Regions from separate parts of the Homo sapiens genome. Here region 2 is linked to region 1. The links come from fine-mapping of genetic effects on gene expression. A gene starts in region 1. The other region holds a variant in brackets. All regions are shown on one strand. Distances are from middle to middle.

What was found. PIP is the estimated chance that this variant, and not a neighbour inherited with it, causes the effect.
Region 2: its variant is the best candidate, but not a certain one, in a credible set for the expression of RPL29 in whole blood (INTERVAL, PIP 0.79).

Annotation. Positions count from the first base shown.
Region 1 is chr3:51,993,128-51,998,499 of GRCh38, reverse strand. It overlaps RPL29 (ribosomal protein L29), which reads left to right and starts at 2,605. Exons shown (of 4, transcript NM_000992.3): 1 at 2,605-2,643; 2 at 3,031-3,075; 3 at 3,394-3,458; 4 at 4,374-4,978. The coding sequence starts at 3,039. The coding sequence ends at 4,751. RefSeq lists enhancers at 2,501-2,660, 4,414-5,146.
Region 2 is chr3:51,335,504-51,340,875 of GRCh38, reverse strand. It overlaps DOCK3 (dedicator of cytokinesis 3), which reads right to left. Exons shown (of 53, transcript NM_004947.5): 36 at 2,457-2,517; 37 at 1,848-1,941. Among named protein-coding and RNA genes, the nearest start is that of MANF, 47 kb to the left of the region's middle. RefSeq lists an enhancer at 123-1,007. The variant C/T (reference allele first, on the strand shown) is at 2,322.

The sequences.
Region 1 (5,372 bases):
AAATAAAGTCATCACTGCCCCCGCTGTCAGCCTCTACCCTGCTGGCTTCTCTTTCTCAAGGATGTGGCAGTCAGACCTCCTCCTCCCTGTCCCAGTCTCCACAGCCACCTCTTCAACTTCCTGAGCTGAAGTCCTGACTTGCTGTCAGGCATCACACCACCCCCACCTCCTGTAGCCCCTGTCTTTGCCCACCAGGTTCTCTACCTGTGCTCAGCACCCCACAGGGACTTTATTCCTGCAGAGACACTCTCCTCTGGGCTCAGCTGTTTCTTTCTTGGCACCAGATCATCCATCAGTATATAAGCCTGCTTTTCATTCTCCCAACTCACACCTGTCAGAATTCTCTCCCCTTTCTCAGGAATGCTTTGGTAATGAGTCATCCACATGTCCTGCCTCCACAACCTCCTTTCCGCTTCACTCCCTAAACCTCTGCAGTATGCGTCTGTCACTCCACGAACCTGGCTTGTCAAGGAACGTTCACTGGGCATGTGTTTATTAAGCTCTTGCTCTATCTACATTATGCTGAGTTAGGCAGTGGGAAAATGAAGGTGATCAAACCAGTCCCAAACTCTGGGCTCCTATGATAATGGACACATACACAACTAAGTAAACAATGCAATTAGAGTCTGGGAAAGTTCTATAAAGAAAGCAAACCATGGCCGGGCACGGTGGCTTACGCCTGTAATCCCAGCACTTTGGGAGGCCGAGGCGGGCAGACCACCTGAGGTCAGGAGTTCAACACCAGCCTGGCCAACATGGTGAAAACCCGTCTCTACTAAAAATAATTCTTTAAAAATTAGCTGGGAGTGGTGGTGTGCGCCCGTAATCCCAGCTACTCAGGAGGCTGAGGCAGGAGAATCGCTTGAACCCGGGAGGCAGAGGTTGCAGTGAGCTGAGATCGCACCACTGCACTCCAGCCTGGGAGACAGAGTGAGACTGTCTAAAAAAAAGAAAAAAAAAAAAAGAATAGAAAAGAAAGGAAACCATGAGAGGACACAGAATCACTGGTGAGATGAGGCAGTGGTTCTCTATTTTAGATAATGGAGTCCAGGGAGGCCTCTATAGGAAAGAGCACACCATCCAAAAAGCAGGGAGAAGGGCAGTCCAGGTGGCTGGGATAGCAAGTGCAAAGGTCCTGAGGCAGAACACACATTTGTGGTTGGCAGGAAAGAAAGGCAATGCGTTTGGAGAGAAGTAAATGACAGAGGTTGTCAGGGTCAAGTGGGTAAAGAATTGATCTTCAATGCAAGGGGATGTCCTTGCAGATTTAAGGGACAGGATCTGATTTGTATCTTAAAACAAGTCCCCAAGCCCCACTGCCGTGTGGAAAATGAACTATAGGGGGAAGAGGTGGAGAAGGCAACAGAGTTGTTAGAGGCAACAATTTCTCAATTCTGATGTCCAACAGGCATCTCACATTTAATGCATCCAACAAAAATATCTGGCTCATCATTCCCCCTCAAAACAAAACAAACAAAGCCCCTGCTCCCCACTCAATCTTCCATCTCTGTAAACAGCCCACCATTCACCCAGTTGTCAAGCCAAAGACATAGGGGCTATCCTTGCCTCCTTTTTCTCCCTCATCTTCTGTGTCCCAAGTCCAGTACTCTTTCTTTGTCCACTCCTCTGCATTCCCACTGTCCTCCCTCAGGTCCAGGCAGCCCTCTCTCCTTCCTCCCCTCTGCTCCTTCTCCACGAAAGAGTCAGGCGTGCTTTTCTTTTTTTTTTTTGAGACAGAGTCTCGCCCTGTAGCCCAGGCTGGAGTGCAATGGTGCGATCTTGGCTCACTGCAACCTCCACCTCCCAGATTCAAGCAATTCTCCTGCCTCAGCCTCCAGAGTAGCTGGGATTACAGGCACGTGCCACCACGCCCCGTGAATTTTTTTTTTTTTTTTTTTTTTTTTTTTGGATTTTTAGTAGAGATGGGGTTTCACCATGTTGTCCAGGCTGGTCTGGAACTCCTGACCTCGTGATCCGCCCACCTCAGCCTCCCAAAGTGCTGGGATTACAGGGGTGCTTTTAAGAACACAGATCGGCCAGGTGCGGTGGCTCACGCCTGTAATCCCAGCACTTTGGGGGACAGAGGCGAGCGGATCGCGAGGTCAGGAGTTCGAGACCAGCCTGGCCAACATGGTGAAACCCCGTCTCTACTAAAAATGTAAAAATTAGCCGGGCGTGGTGGTGGGCGCCTGTAATCCCAGCTACTCGGGAGGCTGAGGCAAGAGAATCGCTTGAAACCGGAAGGCGGAGGTTGCAGTGGGCCGAGATTGTGCCACTGCCCTCCAGCCTCGGTGGAAGAGCGAAACTCCGTCTCAAAAAAAAAAAAAAAGAAAAAGAACACAGATCTTCTTGCCCAACAACATCCCTCAAGGACTCCTTTCTTTTTCAGTATCTTGAATAAGACTTAAGAGACAGGTCCTGGAGAAACAGAGAAGGGAGGAGGCAGCCTGAAGGGGGCGGAGGCAAGCTCGTAGCACCGCCTCCACGTCTGGCTTGCGTTCTTCCGGGCTTCGGAACTTTTCTTCGCGGAGCCTGGGGAAGCTTTTCCAGTAGTACTTTCCGGCGTTGTTGACCCTATTTCCCGTGCTGCACCGCAGCCCCTTTCTCTTCCGGTTCTAGGCGCTTCGGGAGCCGCGGCTTATGGTGAGTGTTGGCCGCGCGGCATCCGATGCCATCCGCGACTTACGGGTGGCGGCGGGGCGCGGGCTGCGGAGAGGACTGGTGACCGACCGTGTGTCTGTCGGGAGCAAAAGCTGCGGGGTGGGAATGGTGCTTCTAGGTCCTAGGAGGGGGATGGCAGGGAAAGCCACTTTATTGGGGAATGCAGCTTTCCGGGGGTAAGGAGTTGATTTCAGGGCATCATTACCTGGGTTTGGGAGGCCAGGACTGGCGTTTGGTCGTGCAGAGTAAGCCGAGACTCGTGGAGGCTGCACATTCTCTGCCTGCAGGCTCATTCTGACCAGAATGGGGGGGGCAGAGGTGGCCCAGCCTGGCGAGCCCTTAACCCTGATCTCCACTTTTGTCTTCCAGGTGCAGACATGGCCAAGTCCAAGAACCACACCACACACAACCAGTGTAAGTTTTTTGGGCCCTGCCTACATCCCAGACCCTGGCAAGGACTGGTTCAGGCAAACTGGGACAGAGATGAAGGGGCACGTTTCCATTGTGGGCCTGAGGCTGATTGATTTCACCCAGTAATAACTTTAGGGTTTATAGGTTTAGAGATCTACTTGAGATACAGAGTGTTTTGCATTTAGTAGTAAGGGTTTCCCATATCTCAAGTGTAGCTGCTGTAGGAAGTGTTGGTTCTCCCAGACTTGCCAGCTGTGATGTTGGGTGGTCTTATTAGAGGAAAGTTCTTTGTTGGCTTAATTCCCTTTTTTTCTCCCACAGCCCGAAAATGGCACAGAAATGGTATCAAGAAACCCCGATCACAAAGATACGAATCTCTTAAGGGGGTGAGTGCACTGAATCACATGGAAGTGTCTTTTCTTGGTTCCAGGTGCACAGTCAAGGCCTCTCATGTAGTTTTTCTCTAGCTTTGGCTTCTGCCTGAGCACAGCCTAACTGGCCCACCCAAAGCCTGCAATTCCTTTTTCTACCCTACCAGACCCATAATAAAGCTTTCCTTGGTCTCCACAGCCTGAAGTGTAACCCTCTGGTCAGGGTGTAACCTGCCTCCTGAGGGCAGTTTGGCTATCTCCCTTGCTTGGCAGTGGCACTTAGGGTAAGGAGTGGCCTTGTCTGAGTGCGTGCAGGGCACATTCCCACACTGACCAGCCTTATGACCTCCATCTGACCCAGTGCTGGAGTTGGGGTCAGCTTCTCTTCCTGTGTCAGGGGGTTCTAAGGATTAGCTGAGAAGGCTGGAGGGTCTAGGGGAGAGCTGAGCATGTCCCCAGTCTGTTCCTTCCCTTTACTTTTGCTCTCTGTTCCGTGGAGTGAATCACAAACTCTGAGCCTCAGTTTCCCCATATCCCACCTTGGCTATAAGTCTTTTGGACCAGACTTGGTATTTAATTGACACCTTCTTCTAAAGAGGGGAGGGGGTGTCCCTGAGGGGATGTCAGGAAAAAACTTGGTCGAACCCCTGCTGTAGGAAGTTGAAGCCCCACAACCTTGGCAGACAGGGCAGCAAAGCAGCTTGTAATTTTGTTCTTGAAGGAGGTCTGCACAGCATTACCCAGGTGGCGTATTGGCTCCCTGGGGTGGTGGTACACTTTCTCTGGAAATAGTTTCAAGAGGTTGGGTATTTCCACATTTGAGGTTGACTTGATGCTGTCTTTAGAATGCTGGGTACCCCTATGGAGAGGGGCAGCAGGGAGAGACTTGGGGACCCACATGCTGCCACCTGTACCTTTCCTGCTTTTCAGGTGGACCCCAAGTTCCTGAGGAACATGCGCTTTGCCAAGAAGCACAACAAAAAGGGCCTAAAGAAGATGCAGGCCAACAATGCCAAGGCCATGAGTGCACGTGCCGAGGCTATCAAGGCCCTCGTAAAGCCCAAGGAGGTTAAGCCCAAGATCCCAAAGGGTGTCAGCCGCAAGCTCGATCGACTTGCCTACATTGCCCACCCCAAGCTTGGGAAGCGTGCTCGTGCCCGTATTGCCAAGGGGCTCAGGCTGTGCCGGCCAAAGGCCAAGGCCAAGGCCAAGGCCAAGGATCAAACCAAGGCCCAGGCTGCAGCCCCAGCTTCAGTTCCAGCTCAGGCTCCCAAACGTACCCAGGCCCCTACAAAGGCTTCAGAGTAGATATCTCTGCCAACATGAGGACAGAAGGACTGGTGCGACCCCCCACCCCCGCCCCTGGGCTACCATCTGCATGGGGCTGGGGTCCTCCTGTGCTATTTGTACAAATAAACCTGAGGCAGGATTTGTTAGCCTCTGTCTATGATCCTGGGGATGGGTTTGGTTGCTCCATCTGTTGGTGTGGGAGAAGACATGGGTCTGGATGGTGGGGTGTGGGTGGGAGTCAGGAGATGGGGCCCTGAAGTGCAAGAGGAGGACCTAATGAATGAGAAATGATTGGGGGCTTTTGGGAAGCTCGGGCACATAGCTTGCTGGACTGTGTAACCTGCCGAGCAAAGGGAGAAATTTTTTTTTTTTTTTTTGAGACAGAATCGTGCTCTGTCACCCAGGCTGGAGTGCAGTGGTGCCATCTCGGCTCACTGCAAGCTCCGCCTCCCAGGTTCACACCATTCTCCTGCCTCAGCCTCCCAAGTAGCTGGGACTACAGGTGCCTGCCACTACACCCGGCTAATTTTGTTTTTGTATTTTTAGTAGAGATGGGGTTTCACTGTGTTAGCCAGGATGGTCTTGATCTCCTGACCTTGTGATCTGCCTGCCTCGGCCTCCCAAAGTGCTGGGATTACA
Region 2 (5,372 bases), 660 kb after region 1:
ACTACAGCTTCCTTTCCAACCTTCTCAGAACTGGCTCTTAGGGCTCCATTACCAAAGGAACCTAAATTGATACTAGACCCAGAGTGAAGGCCTGGCAACATCTTACTCTATGTGTGGAACAATTAGAGAAGGTTATGTAAAACAACAGCAGTGAAATACCATGGCTCCCTACATTCCAAGGGATGAGTCATACTGAATCACAGCCACGGCTCAGGGGCCTCATTACACAGTTTTCTCTCTGTTCTATTTGTTCATTTTTAGTGGGCATCTCCTACTGGCAAGTTAGTTAGTTCTAGCTTCTGTGCTTCTGCCTGGCTTTCAAGGCCCTACTCAAATCTACTCCCCATGACTATGAAGAATCTCATTTCTAACCATTTATTGACCCACTTCCAGTTTTAGCTAGGCCCACTTGCCTGTGTCCACTCTTTAGGCTCCTCCTCATCCTTGCCTTTTTGCCTGTGCCCTTGCCACTGGAACTTCCTGCCAAGGAATGTACACGCCTCCTCATGGGATCAGGAAGCCTTTTCTCTCTAGGGACAAGCCCTGTGGAACTCAGGGCCTCCCTCTGGAGCTTAGGAAACCATGGAACGTCTTTTTCTTCCTTGCCTATATTCTTTTCAGATGTCATTCCCTGAGCCATCAGAGACAAGGCTTAGCACTCTTTCTCTGTTAAAATCCCTGACCCAGCCTCTCAGTCATGGCCCCGTTTCCTAGGAGTTTAGCAAATGCTTCTACTGATACATAACATTTATCAAAGTCTTTCTCTTCAATGCCCTCTCAGAGGGTTGCTGGGATCATGGGTGCAAGTGGATGCAGAGAATGGTAGACTCAGCCCAGTCATTTTATTTTATTAGTCAGCTGAATTTAAGATTCAAAGCCCAGTCATTTTAGATTTAATTCTTGCCAAGCTATGCTATCAGATAAGATACCATCTATGCCAAACACTCTCTAACGGCTAGAGATAAAGAAGGAGGATTCTCTGTTTCTACAAATCTATCTAATTGCAGTAGCGTTTGCAGACAAGGATAGCTTAAATTTCCTGATCTATCACACAAATTCAAGTCCTATCGCCTAAGAGCTAAGACATAATGGCTGGTCACCACAGTGGAGAAAATGGCTCTTTGGGGGGAACGATGGCATAAGTCAATCAGATAGGACACACATGCATGCACGTAACCCCGATTCAGCGTGGTTCTCAGTAAACAGATGTGACAGCCACTTTGAAATGCTTTAAAATTTGTTCTAGTTAGAAAAGGCCTTGATATTGGATTAAATTGTAGATACAATGAAAGGAGCCCTATCTGGCCTGTCAAGAAGTCAGATGAACATTCTTTATACTCTACACTGAGTGCACAATGTGAGGCTGCTATGCAGTTGCAGGGTCTGAAGAGCCTAGCCTGCAAGGAAGGTCTGCTAGTGAGTTCTGGAAGTTCCAGGGTTAGGGGGATATTCCTTTGTTATAACCTTAGCTCCAGCTTTGAAAGTCCTAAAAAAGGCTCTCTGTTCATAAGGAGTGACAGTGAGCTCAGGATGCTCTGAACCTGGTGCACCAGAATTTGGAGGTCACCCTTGAGACTTCAGAGGGGTGGATAGGAGGGAAGAAGAGTGAAACAGACTCAAGTAGTGGATGACATGGCACAAAGGCACAAGTGGAAGTTCTGCCTGCTTTCTCTCTACCATGTGCCACAAAGGAGTTGAGGGAAATGAGTGAGGTGAGGGGATAGCACAAGCCCCAACATTCTGCTGAGATCTGGCAGGCACCAGCCTGAAGCCTTTCTCTGCCTATTGTACAAATCCCTTCAGTTTGTCCTCATGGTCAGGCATGGCTCTCTCTTCTCCCCACTTACCTGTGTAGTTTTCGGCCTGCAAGTGCATGTCACAAAGCTTATGGATGTAGCGGATATACATTTCTTCCTTGTTAATCTCAGATTTGTAAAAATTCTACAATAAAGAGAAGGAAACACCTGTCAACTACCTGTGGAAGCCATAGCCAAGCTCTGGGCAGCTGGCCATAGCCGTGGGTGTGCTGGGCAGGAGGGGGAGGGCAGGCCCTGGAGGCAGACAGCACCAGAAGGAGAAAGCACCAGCCAGAAGGAACACCTGCTGTGGGTGGAACCACTGGCAGGTCTATGGGAGCCCTGGGTAGTGTTAAGAGGAAAAGCATCAGGGCAGATCAGGAGTCAGGGTTGACTGTGAATTGGGTATGTCAGGGTTAGTGGGTCCTTGCCAAGAGGCCAGGCTAGAGTTCTATCCAAAGAGAAGCTCGTTTCATTCCTTCCCCAAGTAGGAATGTGTTTGGGGGAGTGCAGGCCTCTAAGATA[C/T]CAGTAACAGAGCTGATGTCCTGATTCAAACCCTTAGGCCTGCAGCCATGTATTGTAGAAGGGCCAAGCCAATCACAGTGCAGGACAGAAACCATTTCAGTAGGCAGAGAGAAGTCAGGGCCCATGTCCTCTCACCATCAGGTTAACAGTGCAGCCTATCTTCTTATTCTCTGTTTCCTCTCCTTTCATGCAGTCCCTGGAAGAGAGAGCACAGATGAGCACCAGATATGAAGTGGGGCCTTGAGACAACACATAGAACTGTACTATCACTGGGGCATTAGTATGACCAAATCCCAGATTGAGATGGCCTCCAACAGGAACTGCTTCCATAGATAAGGACTCTACTGTGAGCTCCTTTAGCTTTGGAACCACTCTCAGGGCTCAAAGATCTCTGTTCAACTGAGCCCCTTATTCTGGTGGCAGAGCACAGAGAGAGCCCAGAGCTACATCAGGGTATTAAGTGGCACCTACCAATGTCCTTGGCACAAAAGGGTATATGAATTAAGTGGAAGGCCAAATCCTCAACTTCCCAAAAAGGGAGGCACAGAATTCTCCTTAAAGGGCAGGTTTCATTTTGTAGGAGTGCTGAATAGAAGCCAAGACCCTCCACTTCAGGGCCCTAGCTTCAGGGCTCTGTACATGTTCACCACCTAGTTGACATTTCTCCCTATGGTTTCCTTCCTGTGTACTAGTGTTTGGAGCCATCTATCACCAGAAGCAGCAGGTCTCGTGCTTAAAGCATCAGCCAGGACTGAGCTGCATTCATACCTAGCAGGGTCTGGGTGTAGGAGGGGTCAGGGATGGCCTGTGAGAGATAGGAAAATAGGAACACTGAGAATGGATCTTTTCCAAGATAGGGAGAGGGTTGGTCAAAGCCAAGCTCCTCTGGAAAGGAGCAGAAGCCTGGCACAAGGAGATGAAGGAGAATGAGAACCAGACTGGTGAATCCAGCAAGACATCTCCTATGCCAGCCAGAGTGCCATCTGCCTGATGTGTCTCCTTCCATAGCAGCCCACACTGCTATGGAGAAGATCTAGTTTCTTGTGCAGCTGTGTATTAGCAGCTCTGGGGAAAAGCTGCAGAAAGGGGTTTATACAGATTTCTAGGGTCAGGTTGGAGAGTGTCTTTGGCTTTGCTCCACTGGCAGGCACAGGGCCCAGTGAAGAGCAGTACAGCTGGGAGTCAGGGTCCCTAGGCCAAGTCACTGAGCCTCTGGATGGTCATTTGACAAACCCAGTTCTCCCCACCTTCCCATCATGCAGAGGAAGAACCTTGGGATGACTTCTTTGAAAGAAAAGGATGTTGAAAATCCATACTCCTCTCATGATATTCTGCAAAGCCAAATGTCCTTCCTGTGGAAGTCTCCTGTCAGAGTTGATAGGTTTGAGAGGTTTGGAACCAAGGCCCTCCTTTCTAGGGGGGTTTGACCTATCAGCACATTCACCACGTAAGATATTTGGTTCCTATGTAGCCAGACATGAGGGTCCTGAACATCCCTCTGCAGAACCTGTCCCTTTAGCGCTAGCAGAGCCAGGAAACTGCTTGACTTTTCGAGGAGTGAGGCTGAGGTCAGATGGCCAAGTTGTTCCAAGCAACCCACACAATGGTAGAAGGCATCTGTCTCCCCAGTAAGTTGGCCCCATGAAGGGCAGTGAGATTTTACCTAGCCACTTTGGCATTTAGTGATTTGTATTTTCTATAAAGCATCTGAAACATTTACCACGGATTAACTTCTATTTGGCCATAACCAGAACTTCATAGCTAAGTCCCTTAAACAGAAAGGAACTGGCCTCAACACTGTGATACCAGGGGCATCCTACACACTTCTGTGCTCTATGACTGCTTCTCCTCTGCACTGCTGACAGCAGACTCTTTTTTTGTGTACCTCTGCATCACTTCTGTGTGGCTACTTCATGGTGGATGCCTTTTAAAGTCTGACTTAGGTGCAGCTGTTGCTTTCCTCTTGCTCTTTCTCTGAAGGGTGAGCAGGGAAGACTCCAGAAAGAGGCTTCTGAAGCATCCGGCTCACCTGAGTAGTGGGCTGGCTGGGGACTACATCAGTGACCAGGAAGCCCTCATTGCAACCTGAGAGGCCTGGGAAAGGAAGGCTTCATAACCCTCAGTTGCCCATTCCAGGTAGAGGTTCCACTCTGAGCCACAAGGGCTTGGCAACTCTAGCTCTGTCCCTGTCTGTTCCAGGCACAAAAAAAAAAACAAAAAAACCCTTCTAGGGCTCTGCTTCCTAACCTGGGAAATATAGTTACTACCAGTGAGAATCTTCATGTCTGACACAGAGTGTCTGAGATTCACACAAAAGTTAAAGACATTGATATAAAAGTTGAAGAGGTATTCCTCTGAGTACCTAAAGTTTTGCCAGTCTAAAATTGAGTCTTACATAACAGGTTCAGGTAATTCTAGAGTACAATCTATTGATTATTTGTTTAATCAATGTATGTATTTTAAAACTTTGAACAATTATTTTTTCCTTTTTGTTTGATGTCCTTCCCTTGAGTCATATCAACAACTATTTTCTTTTTCTTTTCTTTTCTTTTTTTTTTTTTTTGAGACAGGGTCTCATTTTGTCGCCCAAGCTGGAGTTCAGTGGCGCAATCTCAGCTCACTGCATCCTCGACCTCCCCGGCTAAAGTGATTCGCCCACCTCAGCCTCCAAAGTAGCTGGGACCACAGGTGCATGTCACCATGCCTGGCTACTTTTCCAATTTTTCATAGAGATGGGGTTTCGCCATATTGTCCAGGCTGGTCTCAAACTCCTGAGCTTAAGCAATTTGCCTGCCTTGGTCTCCCACAGTGCTGGGATTACAGGCTTGTGCCACTGTGCCTGGCCAACAACTCTTTTCTTAGTAAGTTCTTGAACTAACTGCATTGAGGCAGAGGAAAAGAGTTGCTTGGTTCCTGCATGGTCTTTCCAACAAGTTTATCACTCATTATTTACTATGCACCTGCCAGGAGCTGGCCCCCATACAGGGGAACAGGGAGATAAGGACAAGGTTCCTATCCTCAAGGAGCTGGTCCTCTTTTGTAAGGTAAGAC